3 separate regions of the Homo sapiens genome follow, and all the other regions are linked to region 2. The links come from fine-mapping of genetic effects on gene expression. A gene starts in region 2. Each other region holds a variant in brackets. All regions are shown on one strand. Distances are between the middles of the regions. Region 1 overlaps POLR2C (RNA polymerase II subunit C). Region 2 holds the start of COQ9 (coenzyme Q9). Region 3 has its middle 13 kb from the start of TRL-CAG2-2.

Region 1 (4,239 bases), 25 kb before region 2:
GAACATCTACCTCTGGGACATCCACAACCCCCGTGTGAAGCTCGTCTCGTGGCCCCTCTGCTCACTGCGCCGCTATGGCCGGGATGCCACACGCTTTACCTTCGAGGCTGGCCGGTAGGACCCTCTCGCCTCCCAGCCCTGTCCTACTATGGTGTGATGGTGGCTGCCATTCACTCTGTGTTGGGCACTGTGCTAGGAGCTTGGTTTACTTATTGGCCTAGCAATCCCAAGGGGGAATGTAATGTTCCCATTTTACAGACGAAGAAATGAAATGGAGGCTTAGAGGAGTAACTTGCCCACAGCATGCAGGTCAAGTGAAGCTATTTACCAAAAATCATATACTACTTTGGCTTAAGTCAAATGCAGGTTCAGGCACTTACTACTTCTGTGACTGTGGATCTGAGTCTGGGTTTCGGGGATAATAAAGTACCTAACCTCCTAGAATTATAGTGAAGACTGGGTATCCCCTCACTTGAACTCTGGAGTCAGTCTGCCTAGACTGAAATTCCATATAATCCTCTGCAGAACCTTGGTTGAGTTACTTAGCTTCTGTATGCCTCAGTTTCCTCATCTATAAAATGGTTTGGGAAAATGCATAACAATGAGGAAACCATTAATGGTACAGAGACCAGAGGGAGGTGGTAGAGAAAACTGAATGGGTTAATTCTTATAATGCATTTCAAGCACCAGCTGGTATAGAATATGCTCAGCACATTTGCACCGTGTGGTCGGACCCCCAGACCACAGCCCTACCTGTCCTCCCGGCCTGGAATGCAACCACAACTTGCAGTTGCAAGAGAGCCTAACTAATCACATGCATGTCTGTGGTGGGTCCCCACCATCTTGCCCTCTGTGCTGTGTCCCCAGGATGTGTGATGCTGGGGAAGGACTCTATACCTTCCAGACACAAGAGGGGGAGCAGATTTACCAGCGCGTCCACAGTGCCACCCTGGCCATCGCAGAGCAGCACAAGCGGGTCCTGCTGGAAATGGAGAAGAACGTGAGGGTGAGGCAGCGGGCATCAGTCCAGGGTACGGGGGGAGGGGGGAACGGGCGGGCAGGCAGGGCCAAGTGCCTGGGGTACACAGTGGAGGCAGGTAGGGTCTTGGGGTGGCTGCTCAGGGATACTGTAAGCCACTAATGGGAGTGACCCCTTCCTTTGCCCCACAGCTGCTGAACAAGGGCACGGAACATTACTCGTATCCCTGCACACCCACGACCATGCTGCCGCGCAGTGCCTACTGGCACCACATCACTGGTTCCCAGAACATCGCCGAAGCCTCCAGCTATGCTGGTGAGTCGCTTCCATGCCCCACACCCACCTGCCAGGAGGCTTTGTGGAGGATGAGGCCTATTGGGCAGGGGTCTTTTGACCTAGCTCTGAGTTCTGAGCCTGCTTCTGTGCCCACAGGTGAGGGGTATGGGGCAGCCCAGGCCAGCTCGGAAACAGACCTCCTCAACAGATTCATCCTGCTAAAGCCAAAGCCCAGCCAGGGGGACAGCAGTGAGGCCAAGACCCCATCCCAGTGACCACAGTGCTGGCGAGCACCGATGACTGCTGGGGGCTGCCTGCTGCGGGGCTGGCTGCAGTGTACCGTGGACAGCCTCAGGGGGCTGTCGGCCAAGAGCCTGGAGAAAGGGAGCAAGCTGCCCCCTCCTTGCCCCCAAGGATGAGGCTGGACTGAGGCAAAGGGCTGGCCACACCACCTGAGCATGTGTGAGGGGTTGGAGCTACCGTGGGACTATATACTGTTAATGATTTTAATATATATGGCTTATGACATACTCTGTATCAATGAGATCCCCTCACCCTCACCCCATCCTTCCCCACCAATACACACAAATTTTTTAATCCCATGACCAGGCCACGGTCAAGGCTGTTTTTGAGTATGAGTGCAGTCGT[G/A]TCCATCCTCCATGGCACAGCCCTCCTGCTGCCAGGACCTGCTTGAACTACCAGGGCCACAGGAGGGGGATAATCAGAGCTTGAGGCTGGCACTCTGACTGCTGGCTTTTCCCAGACAGCCCAAGGGCCGGAACAGCAGGTGGCTTCTCAGTTCCTCTGGGCCTGGAGTGACACAGGAAGGATCTGCACTTCCTCTGTGCTGCTTGCCAGCCTTGCAGTTGGAGTTTTAAGCAGAGGTGACATCTGGTTGACGCCTCAGGTGAAAATCTGGTTTTAAAATGTAACTTCTGCACAGGCTCCTTCCTGCTTTGTAGGCTGGGAAGATGCCCCTGGGGTAGGGGTGCTGATTACCTCAGCCATGTGGAGGAAGGCTGGAGCTTGTTCCTGCCCCAGGAATAGGCCAGGAGGGAAGGCCGCAGCAGGACTGCCGTGGGGAGCACCCCTGCTGCCCCCCTCTCACTGACCAGGGGTGGACAATGCCCAAGCAGAGGGAGCCCCCTTGCCCTGTTTGGCCACCCTCTGGCCAGCCAAAAGCACTCTGAAACCAAGACCTTCCCATTTCCTCCTCCCCACATGGTGCTGAGGCTCCCTGCTGCAATGCAATTAAAGCAATTGATTTTCTAGTGCTGGTATTTGTTGACTACCATGCAGAAGGGCTATCTTTCTATTCACGTCAAACTTTTGGTTGTGTGGGGTTTTTTGTTGTTTTTTGGGTTTTGTTTTTTAATACTTTAGGGTCCTGATTTGTGGGAACAGACCTTCTTGTAAATAACCACTATTTGAGTTGTGGCAGGAGGATGATAAAGCACGCGGCCCCTCCCAAAGGAGCCCTTGAGCTAGGGAGGTGGTGCAGTCAGCCTCGCTCTCAACGTGACCCGGGGAATGACCACCCAGAGGGATGAGCTAGCCTGTAGAGGGGAACTGGGGTCCAAAGGTCTTTGGGGAGGGAGGCAGAGCTGGCTGGCTCAGCTAAGTGGCACGATGACGCATGAAGGAGATTATGTTGTGCTCTTTATTGCCAAAAATAAACACTTTTAAAAAGACAACTTCTGTTAATCAATAAATATCCTTTCCTTTCTGTACTGGATCTCTGGTTTTCTCCAGGCTGCCTAATTAACTGCTTTGTGCATGTTCCTATCTGGAGACAGTGCTGAGGGGTTAGGGCCAGAGCCTTCATTAAGGAGAAATGAAATACTCCTCCTGTGTATGTGGGAGGGGCCCTTGCTCCTGCGGCTGCTTCCACCCCCACCCCCACCCCCACCCCCACCAAACTAAATGATCAGGTCATTGGAGGTGAAGGGGTTCATGACTGCTGGACAGAGAATGAAATATCATGTTTATTTGGTGGGGAGGGGACAGCCAGGGTCTAATGCTATTCCAAAAGGTTACTTCTCAAATTAGGGACACCTGGGAATTTGAAGCGCTAGCAGGCCAGCCCTGGGGCAAGAACTGGAAGGGTTTATAGGCCCCCTGAATAAAGGCTATGGCACTTGATCCTCAACACCAGACATCTAAGGTACAACTGAAAATGACTCATTTTGGACAGAAAGGGTTTAGAGTAAAGAGCTGGACTAACCAGGAGAGAAGTCTAGTTGGTTCCCTACAGGTGCACTGGAAACACTCCAGCAGGGACCTTCTGGGATCTGGGGAGCACTGCTGCCAATTATTAACAGCAGTCAGGGCCAGTAAAGACCTATCCTGCCTAAACACCACTGCATCCCTGGTAATCTATCTATGACCCACTTCTAGTTGGTACTGATGTCCTGCCAAGAAGCTCAACCAACAGTAGACTAGATTCTCAGAAACGAGAAGAGTCTGAAGAGAGACCCCCATATCCAGCTGCTGGCCTGAATCTCCGTTTTTGCTGAAGCAGGCAAGCTGCAGTTAATTTATGGTTAGCACATCACTCTGGATCTCGTGGCTTAATTGAGTTTGTAAATCACTCAGTTTCTTCTTCAATCCTGAGAGGGCTGACAGGACAATGGTTTCAGGACGCAGAGAGCCACAGGACTCCACATTGTAGTAAAACCTAGGAGGCAAGAGTCCAGTGAGTGCACTGCGAGGCAGGCTGGCCGACCCGAGCTCTGGCCATGGACAACCCTTCCTCCTTCCGGGTCTTGGCTCTGTTCCCACATGGAACTTGACCTTGGGCCAGGGCTAACTTCCTTTCATGTAAAACCTCTTACATAGGGTAGTTTCAACACACTTTGCACAACCTCAAGGAGGCTACAACTACCTCATAAGGTACCTGTGAAAATCCTAAAGTTCTGTATGTATGCATGCCCCCTGAGGAGAGAGTGGAAAACCAAGTGAGCAGTGACCAGTGATAGACCTTT
Region 2 (4,000 bases):
CATAAGCATCACTCAGGGCCACATCCCTTAAGATAACCCTACCCCCCTTTAAAGTGCCTGCCTGAGAAAACTCAAGGCTGTCAAAAAAAATTTTACTGTTTGTTCAGGCTAACACTTAAGAAGGATAGGGCTTGTCTCCCTGTGGGAAAACAGAATCCTAACTTTGTTAACTGCCAGCTAGCAGACCAATCTTATTTATAATTATTCACTATCCTGACTCTACTGAGTCCCCACCTGCCTTCCTCCCTCCTCCCTCATTTTTTCTTTGAAACACCCAGTGACTTCTGCATGCTCTAAACTCAAGGTTGGGCTCCGTTCATGCTAGACTCTTTTCCCTATTGCAATAGTTATTACTGATTAAAAATGGTCCTTATCACTTTAGTGTCCAGCTTTCTCTTTGACTGATTTTTAGTTTTTATTGCAGAATAGTATTCCATAAAAAAAATACTATTCTGTTGCTAGACAACTGGACTGTTTCTGTGTTTGGCTACTATGAATAAAATTGCTATGAATATACTTGTACTAACTTTTTTGTAGACACATACCTTCATTTCTCTTGGTGGATTTGCGGGGTCATAGACATTACTTTTACTACACATCTTTAGTTTGGAATTTTGTATAAATACAACAAAAGGGGGCTAGGCGGTGGCTCATACCTGTAATCCCAACACTTTGGGAGGCTGAGGCAGGCAGATAACTTGAGGTCAGGAGTTTTGGACTAGCCTGGCCAACATGGTGAAACCCCGTCTACTAAAAATAAAAAATTAGCTGGGCATGGTGGCACAACCCCAGCTACTAGGAAGGCTGAGGCAGGAGAATCACTTGAACCCAGGAGGTAGAGGCTGCAGTGAGCCGAGATTGTACCACTGCACTCCAGCCTGGGTGACAGAGTGAGACTCTGTCTCAACAACAAAATTAAGCCAAGTAGGGTGGCACGCACTTGTAGTCCCAGCTCCTTGGGAGGCTGAGGAGCCAGACCCTGTCTCAGAAAAAAAAAAAAAAGAAAAAAAAGAAACAGAATAGTATGTGCCAAAATATCAATATTTTAATACATGTACTGAAAGATACGGCACAAATATCCGCAAAACTTTGAAAAGGAAGGAGCAGATGCAAAGTATGACTGTAGTACCACTGAGGGTCATGAGAAGATTTTAGGTGAAATACAGGTGAACGTTTCATCAGTTATGTATGTATGCTAAAGTGTTAATGCATACGTTCTAATTAAGGAAGGCGATATTAGTTTTCCATTTATGACAATGATATAAAGTTTCCTCTTTAAGAACTCCTATTTAAAAATAAAAATACTGAGTACATAGTGGCAAAGGTGGTAAGAGAGTATCACAGAATTCGTGAAGTGGTGAGGAAACGGCTGGCTTTCGGGAAACAATGGACTAGGCTCTCTGTGGCCGTGTCCACCTGTCCTTCCAGTGGACTTGGCAATGGACTTGAGAATGGGTCTGCGACTGCCAGTTCTGTAACCAACAGGCTCAGGCTGCGTGACTTTCGTACCCCGAGCCCTCTCTGAGGCTCTGCCAACTCCATGAAATGGGGGTGACAGGCCCTGCCCCGCTGCATCTGCCCCTCACAGACAGCGGAGCAGGGCCGAAGCTAGCCAGGCGGCTCGCCCGAGCCCGCGCCGATGCCCTTCACCTCACCTTGCTCGTGGGCCGCCCCAACGGCCTCTTCCCCCCACCGTCGAACCCAGCTGAAGCCGGCCTCGCGCCCCCTCCGCGCTCCCCGCCTCTCCCCGGCTTGGCAGCCCCCTCACCGGGCAGGCATCGCAGCTGCAGGAGCCTCCAGCCCGCCCGGCCAAGCGCACCAGATACCGCCGCCGCCGCCATTTTGGAAGCGGGCACGTCGCCCACGGCGACGCGACCGGTAGCTACGGGACCACGGCCCTAAGGAGGGCGGAAGTCGTCGCTCCGTGGAGCCTCCTCCTCTCGCGAGAGGCGCAAGGCGTGGAGTCGACGGCTGGAGAGAAGCCGGGAGCGAGCCCAGGCGGCAGGTGAGAGTGGTGGGGGCCAGCTGAGCGCCAGAGCTCCCTCAACTGTCCCCTCCCGGCCCACCCTCGTTCCCACATCCTCTCATTTTCTCTTCCCACCCCGTTCCTCGATGGGAACGCAGCCACGGCCGCCCCGCTGAAAGCCCCGGCTGGTTTATTCCTGAGAAGTCGGTGTGAGGGGCCAGGGCCGGCCCTAACCTCCCTGGGGTCCTGACTGGGAATTTCTGCCGTTCCCCGGCTGCCTCGTCCCTTGCGCAGCCGGCCCTACTCTGAGGCCCCGGGGACACCACGCTGAGGAGAAACGGCTCCGAGCTTGGGATCGGGGAGACCTGGTTCTGAGACCCGGTCCTACCAGTAGCCAATCGTTGTGACCTTGGGCCTCAGTCCCCGTGACGTTTTGGTCCCTGGGGGTTCCTGGCAGCAAAGCACGAAAGCCTTGGAGTCGGGGGGTACCTGAGCTCACGATTGTAATTTCGAACCTGCAACTTGTCCGAACCCCCAGCGTGTTGAGTTGATATAATTAAGTATCCAGATCGGAAGGATGCTTGTTACTAGAACAGACAGCTAGGCCTTTGTCCAGAAGGATTGATTGAGTGGGTCTGGGTGTGGTCCAGGAATCTCATTTTAACCACTCCCTCGGGTGATTTGTAGGATCTGCAAGTTCGGGAAAGGCTGGTGCCCTTCATTCTGACATTACTGAGTGCCAAGCTCTGGATGGCTCAAGGAGGTCACGGTCTAGCCACTAACAGAGCACTTCACGGGGGTGTCATCAGAGAAGGCTTAGTAGGAAGAAGTAAACGGTTTTTGGGCTAAGAGTAACTGACGACAAGAGCATGTGATTCTGTCGATTTTGTGTTTGCAGTCAGACCCCATCATTGTGTCTGTTAAAGTTGTGCTTTGCACACCCCTTGTCAAATCTAGTCTTTTCAGAATATCCGGCTCCCCCCTGCACGGGTGCGGGGAAGACCTCCTAAGCCAAAACTTACCCCAAAGGTTAAAATTTTAGATCCATATTTCTGGTTTTAGGTAAAACACTCCTCTCCATAAGGATTTGTTTCTGAGTTCTATCCATCCATCTTTGAATGAGCCTTTCCTGTGGAAACTAACATTTGGGTATCCTTTCTGAAACCCTAATTCCTGACACACGCCAAATGCCTGGAGACGTTCCTGTTTCATTGTTGATTCTCACTTTTTAAAAAAAATTCTGGGCCAGGCTCATGCCTGTAATCCCAGCACTTTGGGAGGCTGCGGCGTGTGGATCACTTGAGCTCAGGAGTTCGAGACCAGCCTGGGCAACATGGCGAAACCGCATCTCTACAAAGAATACAAAAATTAGCTGGGTGTGGTGGTGGGTGCCTGTAATCCCAGCTATTTGGGAGGCTGAGGCGGGAGAATCGCTTGAACCCCGGAGTCGGAGGTTGCAGTGAGCCAAGATTGTGCCATTGCACTCCAGCCTGGGCAACAGAGCAAGACTCTGCCAAAAAAAAAAAAAAAAAAAAAAAAAAAAAAACCTCTAAGGTCTTAGTCTAAGTGTCTAGACAGAGCGTTCTCTTGAGGGCAGGGAACAAGTGTCTTCTTGTCTGTCTCCCGTGTAGGGACAGGCACATAGTAGGTTTCTTAGGTCTCATTTGCAGGTTGTAATTGTGCCTTCCTACCATTCTGCTAAAGCTGGCAGGGAAACTGAGGCCCAGAGAGGGGCAATGGCTGACTTGGATTGCACAGCAGGCTGGTTAGGCCCACTTGGTACTGGTCACCCAGAGGCCAGGCAGTGACATGTATGTGCACAAGAGCTTCAGTTAGTTAATTTTATGTTTTTAATTTAATTTTTTTTTATTTTGAGATGGAGTCTCACTCTGTCTCCCTGGCTGGAGTGCAGTGGCAAGATCTTGGTCCACTACAACGTCCGCCTCCTGAGTTCAAGCAATTCTGCCTACCTCAGTCTACCAAGTAGCTGGGATTACAGGTGCACGCCACCATGCCCAGCTAATCTTTGTATTT
Region 3 (4,215 bases), 130 kb after region 2:
AGAGGAAGTTAGGGGGTTGGTTGAAATGGTTATAAACCATGTTGTGGGAACCCAGAAGAGAAAGCAACAAATTCCAGCTGGGGAGATGTAGAGAGGGGAGGCGACCCACCGGAGGCCACACAGTTATCGTGGCAGAGCTGGAGGGAGTTCCACAGACCAGACCCCTGTTTGGGCTGGAAGGCAGCCATCTCTGAGGGAGCGAGGCACTGGTTTCCTGTTTTCCTTCTGAGAATCCGAGGCACCTAAGACAAACAAACAAATAAATCTTGGCCTAAGTTCCATTTCACTCAGTGAAGGAGCCTTGTAAAAGGATGTGTCTGAGCAGGAAAAGTTTATCCCTACCCATTTCACCTTCAACTTGAAGAAGGAGCCCTGAACCGTGATTCAAGACTGGGTTCTAGACCTCTCTGGGCCTCAGTTTCCCCTTCTGTAAAATGACCAGATTTTATAGGCATTTCTGTGCTCTTGCAAACAACCACCAAGATACATTGTTAAGTGGAGGAGGAAAAAGAACAAGGCCAGTATGCATAGAAGATGACAGTTTAAGGAGAAAGGTGGGGGAAGGTGGGAATGCCTGTATACATCAACTTGTATATGCAGAAAATTTCCTGGAGGGCTACATGAGGAACCAGTACCGCAGGGCTTGCCTCTGGGGAAGGAAGCAGGAGTCAGGGATGGAAGGAAAGTTTTCATCTGTTTATTCTTACTTTGCACCTTTTGAAAGTTAAATTATGCAAATGTAATCCCTGTGGGGGGGATATATATACACACACATATATATACATATATATGTATGCACTGTAAAAAATAGAAAAGTATTGAAATCCAGCACTTTGGTATTTTTAAAAAATTATATAACATTGACTGCAGTTTTTGTTTCCTTTTAATACACATACACTGAGATTCCAAGAAGAAAACCCCCCAAAAGGCAGGATCTCTGGTCAGAGACCTAATGCCTGCAGGAGGAGGAAGTGGGGGCAGAAACAGGGAAAAGAGATACACAAGGTTAGAAAATTCAAACCTTATTATGAAAGGTACAAAAAAGGAAAGTGAAAGCCTTTACCTCCCTCCCCAGAGGCAAGGTAATCAGAGGAAATCTCTGATAACAGCTTTTTGTGATTCATCTGGGACATGGGAGAATTAAAAGTCAATAAGTAAAAGGAAAGAAAAAGAAACTGACATTGTGAAAGCTAAGTTTCCATTTGACTTAATCTCATGTCTGGTAGGAGCTGTTTCTGCAGGTGATTTTGTCCTGTTTGTCCAGGCACTGGGTGGGGTTCCATTCTCCTTGGTCAGGTATACAAGCTGGCAGGCCTCCTGGAAGCAGCATCCCTATCTTCTCAAAGTTAGGCAATGACATTCAGAGCTGGCTCCTGGGGAGGGAGAGGCCATCCAGAGCCTACCCAGCCTCACACCCTATCCCCTGGCAAACAACCTCAAGCCCTGACTGTGGTCCTCTCTCTCCAGAACCACAAGCATCTCCCCAGCTGGGCTGAGAAATGTGTCCAGGGGTTCCAGTTCACCGACACCTTTTTCCAGCTTCTTTTTTATTATAAAAATAACACATGCTCTTGGTAAGAAATTCCAAGAGCACAGAAGAACAGGAGCCCCCTTCTCATTCCCTTTCCTCAGGGTGAACTGAGCCACCAGGGTTCTTGGTGTCCTGGTCAGCCCCAGGAGATCATAAGGGTAATGATGCCCATTTTATAGATGAGGAAACTGAGGCACGGAGAGGGGGAGAAACCATTGAGGCCATGTGCTGAAAAGTGGCAAAGGTGGGATTTGAATATGGCTCTTCTGCCCCCAAGTCTAGAACTTTCCACAAGTCTACCAGCAGTACAGCTCTGATCAGCTCAATCCCAAGTTCATAGTGCTTCTTTGCCCCATCCTTATCACTCCTCATCCCCACCACACAAACATATACACGCATACACACACACACATACATATACACACACATACACACACATGCATACACATGCATACTCACATATACACGCACATGCACACAGACATACACACATATACATATACACACACATACACACATACACACATATATACATATATACACATATACACCCACTTACACACACATACACACACACATACACACAAAACCCCACAGTGACTAACCCAGCTGCATGAAAATGCCTCCACAGACATATATACACTCACCCAGCCCAGTGCCCTCATCCCCATAGACTATTTCTGAACCAACATATACACTTGCACACAATCACACATGTGCAATGTACAAAAACACACTTCAGACACTCACACGTGTTCTCATTTCCAGAGACACAAAGACACACTTCTACACACCCATAGACATAGATGCTGGCACACACCCATCCCCACCAGCCTCCCCTCATACCCTCTGTCAGAGCCCACCCCTCAGAGACGCCACATCCATCT[T/C]GTGGCCAAGCCATCACCGCCAAAGTCCTGTCCTCTTCTGCCCGATCAAGTCCTAGTTGTGGTCTTCTAGTTACACTATTGTGCCAGCCAGATGCCACCTGTCCCCCGGCCAAAGCTGGGCCCCTCCCTCAATGCCCTTGCCCTTCTGCCCAAGATTCCAAGGCAGCAGAATTCTTTTTATTTTATGTATTTATTTTTGAGAAAGAGTTTTACTCTGTCGCCTAGGCTGGAGTGCAGTGGCACGATCTCGGCTCACTGCAACCTCCACCTCCGGGGCTCAACTGATCCTCCTGCCTCAGCCTCCCGAGTAACTGGGACTACAGGCATGTGCCACCATGCCCAACTAATCTTTGTATTTTTTGTAGAGACGAGGTTTCACCATGTTGGCCAGGCTGGTCTCAAACTCCTAATCTCAGGTGATCTGCCGGTAAGCTAGCAGAATTTTTTTTTTTTTTTTTTTGAGACGGAGTTTCGCTCTTGTTGCCCAGGCTGGAGTGCAATGGCGTGATCTCGGATCACCACAGCCTCTGCTTCCCAGGTTCAAGCGATTCTCCTGCCTCAGCCTCCTGAGTAGCTGGGATTACAGACATGTGCCACCACGCCCAGCTAATTTTTTGTAATTTTAATAAAGACGGGGTTTCTCCATGTTGGTCAGGCTAATCTTGAACTACTGACCTCAGGTGATCTGCCCACCTCAGCCTCCCAAAGTGCTGGGATTACAGGCGTGAGCCACCGCCCCTCGCCAAGCTAGCAGAATTCTAGGGCTTCCTTTCGTCACCTCTCCCACCCACATGGCACTAATGCCTTGAAGAGATTTGATGAAGAACCTCACAGTTCAACACTCCTGCCTCCTGAGGTGTGCACAAATAGCTTGAAAGGGACCATCTGCTCCTGAGGATCTGCACTCACCCTTGCTCCAGACCCTCTTCATCTTCTCTGAACGTTTCCAAATCCCTTACCTCAGTTTTCCCCCAACAGTTCTCAGAGGATGGGGACCTGAACATTCAGTTGTGGCTCCATTTGACTCACCTGTAAATGTGGTTCCCGAACACTCCAGAGACAACTAGGAACTTCATGAAAACACACAGTACTGCCCCCAGACCCACGTGGGGTCTCTGGGGCTGGCACAGGGTGGCCACTCAATCTGATGGCCAAGAGGTCAATTGAAGAGCTGGGCAGGTGGAGAGAGGAACATCCTTCTCTTCCATAGTCAGACATTAACCAGGAGAGAACTGGATCCCCAAAATGTAATCTTGAGGACTTGAGCACAAGTACTGAGGGCCCTAGTTGGGGTGCTATGAACATACGGGGGAAACACTCTGAATTGGGGATTTATTGGGGGATTTATTCATTTGTTCTTTCAATTAATAAATACTTCCTACAAGGAGGCCAGCCTCAGTGACTGAAATCCCAGCACTTTTGGAGGCCAAGGCAGGAGGATCACTTGAGTCCAGAAATTCGAGACCACCCTGGGCAACATAGTGAGACTCTGTCTCTACAAAAAATACAAAAGTTATCCAGGCTTGGTGGTGCATGCCTAAAGTCCCAGCAAGTCGGGAGGCTGAGGTGGGAGGATCATTTGAGCCTAGAAGGTTGAGGCTGCATTGAGTCATGATCGAGCCACTGCATTCCAACCTGGGTGACAGAGCAAGACCCTGTCTCAAAAACAAAAACAGTTCCTACAGGGAAGCAGGCACCAAGATCTGTGGGGATTGAAGAGTCCCAGCTCACATGAGTGTGGGGTCTGGTGGGGACACACGTAGCCTAAGACTCTCCTCTCTCTCTCTCTCTCTGACA

Evidence for each region. PIP is the estimated chance that this variant, and not a neighbour inherited with it, causes the effect.
Region 1: its variant is the best candidate, but not a certain one, in a credible set for the expression of COQ9 in sigmoid colon (GTEx, PIP 0.66).
Region 3: its variant is the best candidate, but not a certain one, in a credible set for the expression of COQ9 in sigmoid colon (GTEx, PIP 0.56).

The regions. Positions count from the first base shown.
Region 1 is chr16:57,470,668-57,474,906 of GRCh38, reverse strand. It overlaps POLR2C (RNA polymerase II subunit C), which reads right to left. Exons shown (of 9, transcript NM_032940.3): 9 at 2,898-3,932. The coding sequence ends at 3,788. DOK4 (docking protein 4) reads left to right here. Exons shown (of 9, transcript NM_018110.5): 6 at 1-114; 7 at 868-1,006; 8 at 1,171-1,294; 9 at 1,412-2,985. The coding sequence ends at 1,530. Among named protein-coding and RNA genes, the nearest start is that of POLR2C, 10 kb to the right of the region's middle. RefSeq lists enhancers at 1-209, 875-1,395, 1,396-1,917. The variant G/A (reference allele first, on the strand shown) is at 1,904.
Region 2 is chr16:57,445,347-57,449,346 of GRCh38, reverse strand. It overlaps COQ9 (coenzyme Q9), which reads right to left and starts at 1,868. Exons shown (of 9, transcript NM_020312.4): 1 at 1,769-1,868. The coding sequence starts at 1,841. It overlaps CIAPIN1 (cytokine induced apoptosis inhibitor 1), which reads left to right and starts at 1,962. Exons shown (of 9, transcript NM_020313.4): 1 at 1,962-2,005. RefSeq lists an enhancer at 1,756-2,050.
Region 3 is chr16:57,311,485-57,315,699 of GRCh38, reverse strand. No RefSeq gene overlaps it. Among named protein-coding and RNA genes, the nearest start is that of TRL-CAG2-2, 13 kb to the right of the region's middle. The variant T/C (reference allele first, on the strand shown) is at 2,419.